Homo sapiens: one gene and its partners. The protein of the gene in region 1 purifies or fractionates together with the protein of each later gene. This does not show direct contact. Each region holds a gene or a part of one and is shown on either strand. Other genes may lie near its edges.

Evidence for each region. Proteins that work in one complex are often made in the same cells at the same time.
Region 2: the proteins of VIPR2 (region 1) and FAM241A purify together in Homo sapiens (co-immunoprecipitation; 3 studies listed by BioGRID and IntAct, with this or other methods). This does not show direct contact.
Region 3: the proteins of VIPR2 (region 1) and FASTKD1 purify together in Homo sapiens (co-immunoprecipitation; 3 studies listed by BioGRID and IntAct, with this or other methods). This does not show direct contact.
Region 4: the proteins of VIPR2 (region 1) and SETX purify together in Homo sapiens (affinity purification with mass spectrometry; 2 studies listed by BioGRID and IntAct, with this or other methods). This does not show direct contact.

Annotation. Positions count from the first base shown.
Region 1 is NC_000007.14:159,134,572-159,138,462, reverse strand, and holds part of VIPR2 (vasoactive intestinal polypeptide receptor 2 isoform 1 precursor), read left to right. Parts: intron 1-3,891. UniProt on the Homo sapiens protein: G protein-coupled receptor activated by the neuropeptides vasoactive intestinal peptide (VIP) and pituitary adenylate cyclase-activating polypeptide (ADCYAP1/PACAP).
Region 2 is NC_000004.12:112,144,251-112,148,577, forward strand, and holds the start of FAM241A (uncharacterized protein FAM241A), read left to right. Parts: upstream 1-1,203; 5' UTR 1,204-1,330; coding exon 1,331-1,483; intron 1,484-4,327.
Region 3 is NC_000002.12:169,563,542-169,567,419, reverse strand, and holds part of FASTKD1 (FAST kinase domain-containing protein 1, mitochondrial), read left to right. Parts: intron 1-3,878. UniProt on the Homo sapiens protein: Involved in the down-regulation of mitochondrial MT-ND3 mRNA levels which leads to decreased respiratory complex I abundance and activity.
Region 4 is NC_000009.12:132,327,163-132,331,040, reverse strand, and holds part of SETX (probable helicase senataxin), read left to right. Parts: intron 1-541; coding exon 542-3,878. UniProt on the Homo sapiens protein: Probable RNA/DNA helicase involved in diverse aspects of RNA metabolism and genomic integrity.

The sequences.
Region 1 (3,891 bases):
TTGGTGGGAATAAAATATTTCACCAGCATTTGAGGGTTAACTTCAAGCCACTCATATAAAATGGGAATCACCATCTCCTATGACCAAATGACACTATTTTAGCCCACTTTCTCATTCCTGTGTCGGTTGTGTCATGTGGGATATGGTTAATCACAACCCATTTTACACCTAACCCCTTCTTGCTTGTTTCTCTTTGTCAGAGGAAACCAGACAGTGTCCACAAATGGGTTCTTGCTCACAGCGTCATGTGGGCACTGACCCTCCTCGGAGGGTCCAAGGCCCTGTGTGGCTGCAGCATTCCACCTCGCTCTGTGGTCTCGGCTCAGCTGCCCTGCGATGCTGCCCTCTGCTGCGGGAGCTGGAGCTCTGGTGGGAGCTCGCTGTTCGTGGTCCTCAGCAGATATTCAAGGCAGACCTGTTCTAAGAAACTAAATGAATAATCACTGTGTTATGCTCCAGAAGGTCTGAACCGAGCAGTTTTGGCATCCACGGCAGAGAGCAGAGAAGTAGGTTCCTCTGATGTCAATATTGATGGTGTAGACGTCAGTTGTATCTTAAAAGGTGCCTATATCTTTCCTTTTCATTTTCTTTCTGATATAAGTAGGTCCTTGTTCTAGTCCAAATAACTTTTTGGACTGATGAGATAAACAGCCTGGTCACTTTTTTCTTTTGGATCTTTTTGACTAGATTTCTTCCATTTTCTAAACTCTTTAAGGTCATTTCCTCGTCTTGGATATTTAAATAATTAATAACTGTTTATTGGTTGGGACAGTCTTAAAGTAATGTCTTTATGCCTGGTGCAATGGGCTCATGCCTGTAACCCCAGCACTTTGGGAGATCGAGGCAGGAGGGTAACTTGAAGGCAGGAGTTCAAGACAAGCCTGATTAACATAGCAAGACACCAAAAAAACTTTTTAACTTAACCTGGTGTGGTGACACACACCTATAGTCCCAGCTTCTCAGGAGGCTGAGGCAGGAGGATTGCTTGAGCCCAGTTCAAGGCTGCAGTGAGCCATGATGGCACCACTGCACTCCAGCCTGGACAACACAGACAACAGAGCAAGAAGCTGTCTCTATTTTTTTTTAAAGTAATGTCTTTATATTTACTTTTTATAGGAAACAAATCTCACTGAATTAATTTTTACCCTGAATAAAATGCTTAAGAATCATAAAGGGAATTATGGTTGAGAAGTCAGTTTCTGGCAGGTGAAGGAGTGGGCCACTCAGAAGTGCACTAATGGCTTCTCCTGTCTGGGAAGAACGGAGCTGTTGCCTGGGTGACCACAGTGGGTCACAGGAAGCCATTCAGGGTGGGCGGCCGGCCCCTTGAGGTGAGCTGCTGCTGATGGGGTCAGAGTCAGCTTCCTCCCCACCCCTCCTGCTGAGGTCAGGGCTCAGTCTGGTGCTGGTGACCCCAGACACAGCAAGCTCCCACCAGTCGATGGCCTCTCCTGGTGCATACCTCTCTGCCTTCTCCACTCCCCTCCCTTGATCTCTGTCTCCTCCATCCTTGGGCTCTCACACCTGCCTCCTCCTCCCCAGGTATGCCTGGGTGTCCTCAGAACCTGGCTGCTTCCTGTCCTGCTGGTGGGGGTTGGTGACGAGTGGCGGCTGCTTCTCCACATGGCCACAGCAGTAACAATTCCTGCTGGCCTCATTTTTTATGATTTTATATTTATATACCCATTTCACATTCTTTACTTATGAGCCATGGTTTTTACAGCATGTTGTCTGTCGGGGCCTCCTCCTTTTCCTGGGCTCAGCCTGTTCTTCCACAAGGACTGTGTTGACGCGGGGGTTCTTGAGAGGCTCAGAGACCTGGGTCAGTGGAAACGAAACCCACAGCCAGCATGCAGCTCACCACACACACAGCTCCTCAGTGTGTGGCCAGTGACCTCTCAGCTTCTTCCGGGGCAGCAGTGGTTGTCTTGGGTACATGGCCACTGTGGATGGACACTAATGTGCGCTTTCATGCAACCTGTCAGATTCTTGGTGGCTTCGACTCTCACATGTTTTTGATTTGCTATGGTTTGAATATTTATCCCCTTCAATACTTAGGTTAAAACAATCCTCAATGTAGTAGTATTGAGAGACGGGCCTTGAAGAGGTGATTGGGTCATGAAAGCTCTGCCCTCGTAAGTGGGTTAATCCGTTAATAGATTAGTGGGTTTTCAAGGGATAGGTTTTATAAGAAGAAGAGAGACCTGGGCCAACACGCTCAGCCCCCTCACTACACGATGGCCTGTGCCACCTGGGAACCCTGAAAAGTCCCCGCCAGCAAGAAAGCCATTGTGGCCACTCGACCCTGGATTTATCCAGCCTCATAACTGTGAGAAATAAATGCCTTTCCTTTATAATTTACCCAGTTTCCGGTATGTTGTTATAAGCAACAGAGGCAAACTTAGACACATGAGCAGACTGCAGCTCTTCCTGAAGGGGACTTGGGACTCGAACCTCTTTGGTCACAAAGCTTTGTAGAGTTTTCTGGGTCAGCACCCAGTCCTGTGATTCCCTGAAGGCTTCATGGCCAGGACCTGTGTGTTTGAGGGTTGCCTCGTGTCGTGGGATGAGTGGAAATTAAACCGTCCGGCTGACATTTGCTGATGCGTTGGCTGATCCTCTCATTTATTTATTTTTTCTGAGATGGAGTTTCACTCTGTCGCCCAGGCTGGAGTGCAATAGCATGATCTCAACTCACTGCAACCTCCGCCTCCTGGGTTCAAGCAGTTCTCTTGCCTCAGCCTCCTGAGTAGCTGGGATTACAGGCGCCTGTCACCACGCCCAGCTAATTTTTGTATTTTTAGTAGAGATGGGGTTTCACCATGTTGGCCAGGCTGGTCTCGAACTCCTGACCTCAGGTGATCCACCCGTCTTGGCCTCCCAAAGTGCTGGGATTACAGGCGTGAGCCACTGTGCCCGGCCTCCTCCCATTTATTAACATTTTTCAGCAGGTTTTTATGGAACAGATACCAGATTGTAATAAAGAACTTTCCTTTTTAAATATTATTTTTATTTTATTTATTTTTTGAAACGGAGCCTCACGCACTCTGTCACCCAGATTGGAGTGCAGGGGTGCGATCTGGGCTCACTGCAACCTTTGCCTCCTGGGTTGAAGCAATTCTCCTGCCTCAGCCTCCCGAGTAGCTGGGATTACTGGCATGTGCCACCATGCCCAACTAATTTTTTGGATTTTTGGTAGAGACAGGGTTTCACTATGTTGGCCAGGCTGGTCTTGAACTCCTCAAGTGATCCGCCTGCCTTGGCCTCCCACAGTGCTGAGATTACAGGCGCGAGCCCCTGTAGCCGGCCCTTTTTTAATGTTAAAGACTCACTTTTCTTAACTAATCAAAGACTAGAGACAGCATGAAGCTTAATAAGTTATCCTGATAAAACACAAAATCATTGTTTTCTAGGCCAATTACTTAAAATGTTAAAAAAAAAAAAAAAAAAAAAAAAAACTTTTGTAATTAAGAGAAGACCAATATTCAAGAAAATATTGTCCTATTGGCCAGGCGCGGTGACTCATTCCTGTAATCCCAGCACTTTGGGAGGCTGAGGCAGGCAGATCATGAGGTCAGGAGATCAAGACCATCCTGGCTAACACGGTGAGACCCCGTCTCTACTAAATATACAAAAAATTAGCCGGGCGTGGTGGCGGGCGCCTCTAGTCCCAGCTACTCAGGAGGCTGAGGCGGGAGAATGGCGTGAACCCAGGAGGCAGAGCTTGCAGTGAGCCGAGATGGCCCCACTGTACTCCAGCCTGGGTGACAGAGCAAGACTCCGTCTCAAAAAAAAAAAAGAAAGAAAATATTGCACTATTAATAGAAAACAAACTCACTTTGTGTCAGTACTTGAAGCTTTTTTTAACAAAAACTTATAAATAAAATCATT
Region 2 (4,327 bases), on another chromosome or scaffold:
TCCATTTTCCTTGAATAAAATGGATGGAGTAGTACAAAAAATAATTATCAATTGGATATATTCCCCTCACCACCCACTGAGAAAGACATATTCTTACCCAGTTACAGAAAGATACATCATTTGATACACCATCAAACGACCCAAGGCTCCAACAAACAACACACACTAGGAAGCACTCAACAGAAAGGGACAAATACACAGACCTTCAGTGAGACACTAGGAAAGGAGGCTAAAGGAACAAGAGGGACAGTGAAATGTGTCTTCCTTGAAAAGGACGGGCAGATACTCAGGCAAGAACAGGGGTACTCTGCTGGAGAGTGTAACTGGGTGCATGTGTGTGTTTCTCTCTCACATACAAACCCACACACACTAATCTCTTATACAAATGCGCTCTCTCTTAAATATATGCACTGGCTCTCTCACACAAGTAATTTCTCTTTCACACTTGATCTCTCTCAGTTTCTGTTGTTCCCTCATACAATCTCTCTCTCACAGTCTCTTGCATACACATACAATCTCAATCTCTCTCTCTCTCTCTCTCTCTCTCTCTTTCCCCCCCCCCTCCTCTCTCTCTCTCTCTCTCTCTCTGAAACGGGGTCTGGTTCTGTCGCCCACGCTGGAGTGCAGTGGTGTGATCTCTGCTCACTGCAGCCTCGACTTCCCGCGCTGAGACGATCCTCCCACCTCAGCCTCCTGAGTAGCTGGGACCACACTGCCGCCACCACGCCCGCCTAATTCTATTTTTAGTAGAGATGGGGTTGCCCAGGCTGGTCTCCAACTCCTGGGCTCAAGCTATCTGCCCGCCTCGGCCTCCCAAAGTGCATACAATCTCTTATACGCAGTTTCTTTTATATAGAATCTCTCTCACACACACACACAAATCACGCTCAGCGTCTCTCTCACACTCTCTAACGGTCTCTTACGCACACACAATATCCCTCATACATACACACAGCCTCTCTCATGTACAATCTCCCTCATGCAGTGTATGTCCATAGTTTTTCACACAACACCCTTCTTCTCTCAGTCTGTCGGCCTCTCTCTCAATCTCACACACACACCCCCGCCCCCCAACACACCGTTGGCCCCGCCCCCTGTCTTGGCCCCTCCCCTGTACGGCTCCGCCCCGACGGCCGGGGGTTGGGCGAGCCAGTGACAGGAGGGGCCGGGCTGGTACTTCAGGCGCCCAGGCCGGCGGGGCGCGCTCCGGCGGCTCCTGTCAGCGGCGGGTGCGGCGGATCCCAGGGCAGCCTTCGGGCGGCGGCGCTGCCTGGTGCGTCGCGGCGTGGTCCTCCGGCGGCTGTCCGGGGCGGTAGGAGTTGGCTGCGGGATGTGCTCAGCCGGGGAGCTGCTGCGGGGCGGCGACGGCGGGGAACGCGACGAGGACGGGGACGCGCTGGCGGAGCGGGAGGCGGCAGGGACCGGGTGGGATCCCGGGGCGAGCCCGCGGCGGCGCGGACAGCGGCCGAAGGAGAGCGAGCAGGTGAGCGCGGGGAGGGGCGGCGGCGAAGCGGCCGGGTCGGGGGCCGCGAGCCCCGCCCGGCGTTGGAGGGAAGGGGCCCGGCCCGCGGGCCGCGCCGCAGCTCTGCCCCGCGTGGGCACTGGCTCCCCGGCGCTCTGGGAAGTCGTCGCCGGGAGCGGTTAGACGGCGCTCCCAGGAGGAGCGGCGGGGTCGCGCGAGTGCAGACGCCAGCGCCGGCCCCGGGGTCGCGTGTCTGGCGGGGTCAGCGTGGTTCGTCCCCTGGCGTCCGGCAGAGGATTCTCAGGCTGGCGCCCAGGGCTCGGAGGAAATGCCCTCCATAGCGGTGATTTATTTAAAAGCCTCACTTGTAAACACTTCTTTTTCAACTTCGAGTCCGTGCCCTGCGCCAGGTTTAGGAGACGCCGGCTCCCCTCCCGCCCTCCATCTTGCGTTTCCGAGCCCACACCTAGCGTGTCTGGAAGGTGTGGGTGGATTCCGTCCACGGGCAGCGCTGAAAGCATGAGTAGGAGCGGGTGTTACAATGAATGTCTTGACAGGGACTCTCCCAGAGCACGTTCTTCATAAATACAGATGAGATCAAAGCTTCAGTTAAAAAGTGGAGAGGCAAGAATATTGCTTTCGGTTATAAGAGGCCAGCCATAGTAAGGGAAAAGAGAAGTTGCGTAATTTTTTAAACTCTCTGAGTTTATCTCATTTAAATAAAGTGTGATAATGGGCATTATAACATCAAATATCTTAAAGATTAGGCAAAAGGTTTAATTTTAAAAATTGAATTGTATGTTGGATGAATTTTCTACAGCAAATACAGTATTTAGACTTTCCAAATACCTGAGGTAAGCCGCTCTTTAGACTCACATTAAGGAGCAGGAATTCAAATGATTATTGGCCTTTATTACAGCCTGTACTGTTAGGACAATTAATACCTGTCTCTCCTCATCTTTCTTCATCTGTCCTTTCTGTCACGTTTCACAAATTCCAGTATCATCACTAAATGCATTAATAGATGTATACCTTACATTGTTTCAATAGGTTACTTAGGAAACAGAGTAATACTGTGTGGCACACAAAATATGCCTTAGCGTTAGGTTTGATCACCACGTGGAGTGTAATTTTTCATCTGTGACAATATAAGAGAAAGTGACTCAAGCAAATAATTTGGTAGCTTGTTCTTCGGATTCCCTTCCTAGTGGTTTTTCCCGTTAACTATTCATTTGCTCAAGGGCTTGATTTCCTCTAACTTAAATTGCTTAACTGGAAAAGTGAAGAAGACAGCACAAGAATTCCTTTGGGGGTGGGGAGGGGTTGCATTTGAGCAGGGGTTTCCAAAGTAAATTTTCAAATAGTTGTAAGGGAGCATATAAAAATACTTCATTTAAGCTTCTGTGTACTTCATTAGTATGATTATGTAGACATCACTAATAGTTGTGGTCTTTCCAAAATTGCTTATGGTACAAAGTAAAAGGATAAAACAAAAAATGAAAAGTACATCTTAGAAAACATATCACTTTGCATACCTGCCTCCTTCATTGAATGTCATGAAAGTTCATTCTCCTGTACTCCTTTGAAGTGTTATTTTTATCATTCTGTTTTTGCCTCAAGATTTATTAATGTATTCTAAGCCCCCATACACAATAATTGAAAATCACACCGGAGATAGGCATTTCCTACTACATTAGCACCAAAGAAGAATTAGTCAAGAAGACAAAAATAAGCAAAAAATTGGTGCAACCCAACCCATTGTTGTAAAAAGCAAGCTTTTCTGATAAAACGTTTCTTGGTAATGTTATCACAAAGCCTTGTTTTCTAGTTTTTTTCAAGTTCTGTAAATGAAATTATGCATTGCCATGTAATGATGGTAGAAATAGTATTACATGTGTAAAGATATTTGAGGAAGAAATGAAATTAACAACTATGGAACATATCCCAAGGACTCATTTTATTTAGTTTTTATTTAGGGAGATGATTTTTGTTTGTCCTGTTGGTTGGTTTAAGGATACAAGGACTCCAGATTACAAATGGAATATTTTTGAAAGATTGGTTTCTAAGTTAATGATTTAGAACTTAAGGTGAACTTTTCCATGAAAACAATGATATAAACAGGAACAGAACCAAAACTAATTAGCTGGAAATGAGACAGAGGCCATCTTCCTGCCGTCTTTTCTACTTGGCACGCTCACTTCGTGTTCCGGAGTCATGGATAGCCTCATGGGTATTGAGAGGAAATTAGAGGCAGGAGCTAGCAGAGGCGCTCCTTTTAACCCAGAAAAGAGCTATGGTTGTATGCTCTTGAACACCATAGCTCCAGAGGCACCTGACTTGTGCTCCTCTAGCTCTTTCAATGATTTTGTCAACACCTAATTTTCTGTATTAAGTCCCTTTCTATTTCTATTCCCCTCACAGAGTTTGCCCTTTCCTAATAATTTGATGGAGGTTTCTTTCTTGGGCTATTTCTCAAGCTAAATCCTCGTCCACATACATCCCTTCCTTCACTGATTTTTCTTTCCACTTCTGTCTGAAAGGTTCATTCCTTTTCCTCAACCTGGAAAGCTCTTTCATCAGCTTGTTATTACAATACCAGAACAAAATGTATCTTTATTTTGTTACTTATTTCATATATATATGAAATATATAAAACACCTAGTATTAACATAGGTGTTTTATTACTAGTTAAGATATTGTCTGCATCATTTTTAACAATTTGTCTTTAGATGCTACTCCATTTGAGCAAAAAATGAAGGTTCTTCTGTCATTCTGGCCTGAGTCTTTCCAGGTAGGGCGATTGACAAAGGATGCCTGGTTAAAATCAAGTCACTTAAGAAAGGAGGCCTTGGGAGAATGAATCAA
Region 3 (3,878 bases), on another chromosome or scaffold:
CCTTTTGCTAACAGTACAAATTATCTATTTACTGGATCTTTGGGGTTAGATTTGTTGATAATAGGTCACAACATTTTATTTCTCTTCAAAGCAAGGATACGTTATGTGTATTATGCAGCTTGAACAAATCACTTGTAAAATAGGTGGTCTTTTGTGTTTTATAATTACTGTATTAATTAAATTACATGTATGATTGTATTTTATAGTGAATCAAGCATTTCTTTTAAATTTTTCTTTATTTCAAAATAACTCAGAAGTACAATGATCTTGCTAAAATATCTATAAACTTATGTTTTTTTTTTTTTGAGACAGAGTCTCGCTCTGTTGCCCAGGCGGGAGCGTAGTGGTGTGATCTCAGCTCACTGCAAGCTCCGCCTCCTGGGTTCAAGTGATTGTCCTGCCTCAACCTCCCAAGTAGCTGGGACTACAGGCACCTGCCACCACACCTAGCTAATTTTTGTATTTTTAGTAGAGACAGGGTTTCACCATATTGGCCAGGCTGGTCTCAAACTCCTGACCTCGTGATCTGCCCACCTTGGCCTCCCAAAGTGCTGGGATTACAGGTGTGAGCCACTGTGCCCAGCCTGTTTTATAAATATAATTTGTAATGATTTAAATGGGGTAGATTATTCTGGATTAGTACTATATGATGAATCATGGCAAGGATAATTAACATGTATTTGAAATCCATATATATTTTTTTCTTTTGGGATAGGGTTTGGCTCTGTTACCCAGGGTGGAGTACAGTGGTACAACCAGGGCTCACTGCAGCCTCAGACTTCCAGGCTCAAGCCATCGTCCTATCTCAGCCTCCCAAGTTTCTGGGACCACAGGTGGATGCCACCACGCCCAGCTAATTTTTATATTTTTAGTAGAGATGGGATTTCGCCATGTTGCCAGGTTGGTCTTGAACTCCTGGGCTCAAGGAATCCTCCTACCTTGGCCTCCCAAGAAATCCAAATTTTTTTTAAAAAACTTTCTATTATAGAATATTTTTAACATTTACAAAAGGAGAAAGAGTAGTACAACGAATTCCCATGTACCCATCCTCCAGCTTCAACAATTGTCAACACATAGCCAGTCTTGTTTTATCTATATCCCCTCCCACTCTCAGTATACTTCAGTATATTTTAAATAATATCATTTCATCTTTAAATACCTCAGTATGTTTCTCTAAGGACTTTTTAAAAATATAGAACCAGCTGGGCGTGGTGGCACACGCTTGTAGTTTCAGCTACTCAGAAGGCTGAGGTGGCACAGCAAAGGATACAATCAACAAAGTGAAGCGAGAGTACACAGAAGGGTAGAAAATATTGGCAAACTACCCATCTGACAAGGGATTAATAACCAGAATATATAAGGAGCTCAAACAACTCTAATTAGGAAAAAGTCTAATAATCCAATCAAAAAATGGGCAAAAGATTTGAGTAGAGATTTCTCAAAAGACCCGTGCAAATGGCAAACAGGCATATGAAAAGGTGCAACATCAGAAAAATGCAAATCAAAACTACAATGAGACATCATCTCACCACAGTTAAAATGGCTTATATCCAAAAGACATGCCATAACAAATGCTGGCAAGGATGTGGAGAAAAGGGAACCCTGCACACTGTTTTTGGGAATGTAAATTAGTATAAGCTCTATGGAGAACAGTTTGGAGGTTCCCCCAAAAACTAAAAATTGAGCTAGCATGTGATCCAGTAATCCCACTGCCTGGGTATATACCCAAAAGACAGGAAATCAATATATTGAAGAGATATCTGTACTCTTACGTTTATTGCAGCACTGTATACAATAGCTAAGATTTGAAAGCAACATAAGTGTCCATCAACAGATGAATGGATAAAGAAAATGTGGTGGCTGGGCGCGGTGGCTCACGCCTGTAATCCCAGCACTTTGGGAGGACAAGGCGGGCGGATCATGAGGTCAGGAGATCGAGACCATCCTGGCTAACAAGGTGAAACTCCGTCTCTACTAAAAATACAAAAAGTTAGCCGGGCGTGGTGGCGGGCGCCTATAGTCCCAGCTACTCCTGAGGCTGAAGCAGGAGAATGGCGTGAACTCGGGAGGCGGAGCTTACAGTGAGCCGAGATCGCGCCACTGCACTCCAGCCTGGGTGACAGAGCGAGACTCCCTCTCAAAAAAAAAAAAAAAAAAAAAAAAAAAAAAAGCCTGGTGTGGTGGCTCACGCCTGTAATCCCAGCACTTTCGGAGGCCGAGGCGGGCTGATTACCTGAGGTCAGGAGTTCGAGACCAGCCTCAACATGGAGAAACCCTGTCTCTACTAAAAATACAAAATTAGCTGGGCATGGTGGTGCATGCCTGTAATCCCAGCTACTCGGGAGGCTGAGGCAGGAGAATTGTTTGAACCTGGGAGGCGGAGGTTGCAGTGAACCGAGATCGCGCCATTGCACTCCAGCCTGGGGCAACAAGAGCGAAACTGCGTCTCAAAAAAAAAAAAAAAAAAGAAAAATGTGGTATATATACACAATGGGGTAATATTCAGCCGTAAAAAAAATGATATCCTGTCATTTGCAACATGGGTGGAACTGGAGATTATTATGTTAAGTGAAATAAGCCAGGCACAGAAAGATAAACGTCGCATGCTTTCACTCATTTGTGGGAGCTAAAAATCAAAACAATTGAACTAATGGACGTAGAGAGCAGAACGATGGTTACCAGAGGCTGGGAAGGGTAACGGGCGATTGTGGGGGAGGTGGGGATGGTTAATGGGTAAAAAAAAATAAAATGAATAAGACCTACTATTTGACAGCACAACAGGGTGACTATAGTCAATAATAACTTAATTATACATTTTAAAGTAACTTAGAACGTAATTGGATTGTTTGTAACTCAAAGGATAAATGCCTGAGGGAATGGATACTCCATTTTTCATGATGTGTTTATTTTGCGTTGCATGCTTGTATCAAAATATCTCATGTACCCCATAAATATATGTACCTACTATGTACCCACAAAAAAAATTTTTTTTTTAATTTTAATAAAAATGCTGAGGTTGGAGGATCACTTGAGCCTAGATGTTCAAGTTCAGCCTGGGCAACACAGTGAGACACTGTGTCTTAAAAACATAATAAAATTGATAAATTTAAATTTTCGATATTACCTAGTACCTTGTCTGTGTTCAAATTTTGTTGATTGTCTTATAAAGGTCTTTTTATAGGCAGTTTATTTAAATCAGTTTCTGAGTAAGGTTCACAATTACTGTGTCTCTTAAATTTTTTTGTTTCTTTTTAAATAAACTTTACAGAAAAATAATGTATAAAAATTATACTAGTCATAAGCATACAGCATGATGAATTTTAATATACTGATCATTGCTATGTAACAGCACCAAGATAAGGAAACAACATCATTAGTTCTTTTCATGTTCTCTTCTAGTCCTCTCACCCAAAAAGGATCTTGACCTCTAACACCATAAATTGTTTCTATAGAAATGGAATCCTATAGTATGTACCCTTATAGTTTAGTTTGCTCAGTATGTTTTAAGGATTTATCCATTATGTTGTATGATTCCATAATTTTATTCTATTGTATGAGTATGTGCAGTTTATCCATTGTACTCTTGATGGACATTCGGGTTTTTTGCAGGGTTTTGCTATTACATATGTGTTGCTGTGAATTTTCTTATGCTTGTTTTTTAGTGAATTCAAAGTCATAAAATCTATAACAGTTCCTTTTTCCTCTCTTTTGTCTTGCCATTTTCTTGTTGAAGAAATTGGATTATTTCTCCTATTAAAAAAATTCATAGCACTGTTGTAGTAGCAGCCATTATATTTGTTAATATGCAACCTTGAGTCAAAATTGTTCTGTCATCTAAAAAAATTAAGTAAATCATTCAAATAATTTTTAGTGATTTT
Region 4 (3,878 bases), on another chromosome or scaffold:
TTTGAAAATTCAGATGCTATTTTATTGCCTTTATATTGTGTAGACTATTTTGTATAATTTGTTGAGTTGCAGATTTTGTGATATGTAGCTGTTCTCAATCTACTGCTATGTAAAAGCCCTTCTCATTGAACAGCAGATGTATTGTGTGTTGGGGAAGATGGACTCTAACTACAGTATGCATACTTTGGAAAATTAACTTATAAGTACATTTAGGGAAGATGGAAAGTTTATGGGGACATACATGGCATGACTAGAAATCAAAACTAGCTAGTGGACAGAAGGTGAGAGTACATAAAGGTGTTACCAATTTGTCTTTTTATGAAAACTCAAAATTCAATTTATATTTTCACTTTCTTGGGAGTTAGGTGTATTACGATTGTGATATAATTATATGCCACAATTATACCATTGTATAGCATAATAATGATGTGGTAAACCAAAATAAGAGAGTTGAGAAACGTATTTTTCTTAACGACTTGGGTGTTGAACCTGTCATAAGTGGTGCTTATTTATCTGAACATCAGCATTTCTTTCATTTTAGGATTCTGGATGGAGAACAGCCATTTGCCCAGATTATTGTCCTAACATGTATGAAGAAATGGAAACATTAGCCAGTGTACTTCAGTCAGATATTGGTCAAGACATGCGTGTTCATAACAGCACATTTCTATGGTTCATCCCTTTTGTCCAGTCCCTCATGGATCTTAAGGATTTGGGTGTGGCTTACATAGCACAGGTTGTTAATCATCTGTACTCTGAAGTCAAAGAAGTCCTCAACCAAACAGATGCTGTGTGTGACAAAGTCACTGAATTTTTTCTTCTAATTTTGGTATCAGTGATTGAACTGCATAGAAATAAAAAATGTTTGCATTTGCTGTGGGTAAGTTCCCAGCAATGGGTGGAAGCCGTCGTCAAATGTGCCAAGCTTCCTACCACTGCGTTTACACGGAGTTCTGAGAAATCATCTGGAAATTGCTCCAAAGGAACAGCAATGATATCTTCACTGTCATTGCATTCCATGCCATCTAACTCTGTACAACTTGCTTATGTGCAGCTGATTAGAAGTCTCCTTAAAGAAGGTTATCAGCTTGGGCAGCAGTCTCTTTGCAAGCGATTCTGGGATAAGCTCAACTTATTCCTTAGAGGAAATTTATCTCTAGGTTGGCAGTTGACTAGTCAGGAAACCCATGAGCTACAAAGTTGCTTAAAGCAAATTATTAGAAACATAAAATTCAAAGCACCTCCATGTAACACTTTTGTGGATCTGACTTCTGCATGTAAAATCTCTCCTGCATCTTATAATAAAGAAGAAAGTGAACAAATGGGGAAGACGTCTAGAAAAGATATGCATTGTTTGGAAGCTTCCAGCCCAACATTTTCTAAAGAACCAATGAAAGTGCAAGACAGTGTATTGATCAAAGCAGATAACACTATAGAAGGTGACAATAATGAGCAAAATTATATAAAGGATGTGAAACTAGAGGACCATCTCTTAGCTGGGTCATGCTTAAAGCAGAGTAGTAAAAACATTTTTACTGAAAGAGCTGAAGATCAAATTAAAATAAGTACAAGGAAGCAGAAGTCTGTAAAAGAGATCTCTTCATATACACCAAAGGACTGTACTTCAAGAAATGGTCCAGAAAGGGGATGTGACAGAGGAATAATAGTATCAACACGTTTGTTGACTGATTCTAGCACTGATGCTTTGGAAAAAGTGTCCACATCGAATGAAGATTTCTCTTTAAAGGATGATGCTCTTGCTAAAACCTCAAAACGAAAAACTAAGGTACAGAAAGATGAAATCTGTGCAAAGTTATCACATGTAATAAAGAAGCAACACAGGAAGAGTACTTTGGTCGATAATACTATCAATTTAGATGAAAATTTGACTGTATCTAACATTGAGAGTTTCTATTCAAGGAAAGATACAGGAGTTCAGAAAGGAGATGGTTTCATACACAATCTTTCTTTAGACCCTAGTGGTGTTCTGGATGATAAGAATGGAGAACAAAAATCTCAAAACAATGTATTGCCAAAAGAGAAACAATTAAAGAATGAAGAATTAGTTATTTTCTCTTTCCATGAAAACAATTGTAAAATACAGGAATTTCATGTTGATGGTAAAGAATTGATCCCTTTTACAGAAATGACCAATGCTTCAGAGAAGAAATCATCTCCCTTTAAAGATCTTATGACTGTACCTGAATCAAGAGATGAGGAGATGAGTAATAGTACCAGTGTGATTTATTCTAACTTGACAAGAGAACAGGCCCCTGACATCAGTCCTAAATCTGACACCTTAACGGATTCTCAGATAGACAGAGACCTTCACAAATTATCTTTACTAGCTCAAGCCAGTGTTATTACGTTCCCATCCGATTCACCTCAGAACTCATCGCAGCTGCAAAGGAAAGTAAAAGAAGATAAAAGATGTTTCACAGCTAACCAAAATAATGTTGGAGATACCTCCCGTGGACAGGTTATTATTATTTCAGATTCTGATGATGATGATGATGAAAGAATCCTGAGTCTTGAGAAACTCACTAAACAGGACAAAATATGCCTTGAGAGGGAACATCCAGAGCAGCACGTTTCAACAGTTAATAGTAAGGAGGAAAAGAATCCAGTAAAGGAAGAAAAGACAGAGACTCTTTTTCAGTTTGAGGAATCTGATTCTCAGTGTTTTGAGTTTGAAAGTTCATCTGAAGTGTTTTCAGTTTGGCAAGATCATCCAGACGATAATAATTCAGTTCAAGATGGTGAGAAAAAATGTTTGGCTCCTATAGCCAATACTACAAATGGTCAGGGTTGTACAGATTATGTATCTGAAGTTGTTAAAAAAGGAGCAGAGGGCATTGAAGAACACACAAGACCACGGAGTATTTCTGTTGAAGAATTTTGTGAAATTGAAGTAAAAAAGCCTAAGAGAAAACGATCTGAAAAACCAATGGCTGAAGATCCTGTGAGGCCTTCATCTTCTGTCAGAAATGAGGGCCAGTCTGATACTAATAAGAGAGATCTTGTGGGAAATGATTTTAAAAGTATTGATAGAAGGACTTCAACTCCCAATTCACGTATTCAGAGAGCCACTACGGTTTCACAAAAGAAGTCTTCAAAGCTTTGTACTTGTACAGAACCCATCAGGAAAGTTCCAGTTTCTAAGACCCCTAAGAAAACTCATTCAGATGCCAAAAAAGGACAGAATAGAAGTTCAAATTACCTAAGTTGTAGAACAACTCCTGCTATAGTGCCGCCAAAGAAATTTCGTCAGTGTCCTGAGCCAACTTCAACAGCTGAGAAACTTGGCCTGAAAAAGGGTCCTCGTAAGGCATATGAGTTGTCCCAGCGGTCTTTGGATTATGTAGCTCAATTACGTGATCATGGCAAAACTGTTGGAGTAGTTGATACCCGAAAAAAGACTAAATTAATTTCTCCTCAGAACCTGTCTGTCAGAAATAATAAGAAACTTCTGACTAGTCAAGAACTTCAGATGCAAAGGCAGATCAGACCCAAATCACAAAAAAATAGACGAAGACTTTCTGATTGTGAAAGTACAGATGTTAAAAGAGCAGGGTCACATACAGCACAGAATTCTGACATATTTGTACCAGAATCTGATAGGTCAGATTATAATTGTACAGGAGGAACTGAGGTACTTGCCAACAGTAACAGAAAACAGTTAATAAAATGCATGCCTTCTGAACCAGAAACCATAAAAGCAAAACATGGGTCTCCAGCAACTGATGATGCTTGCCCTTTGAACCAGTGTGATTCTGTAGTGTTAAATGGAACAGTACCAACAAATGAAGTAATTGTCTCCACTTCAGAAGACCCTCTGGGTGGAGGTGATCCAACAGCACGTCATATAGAGATGGCAG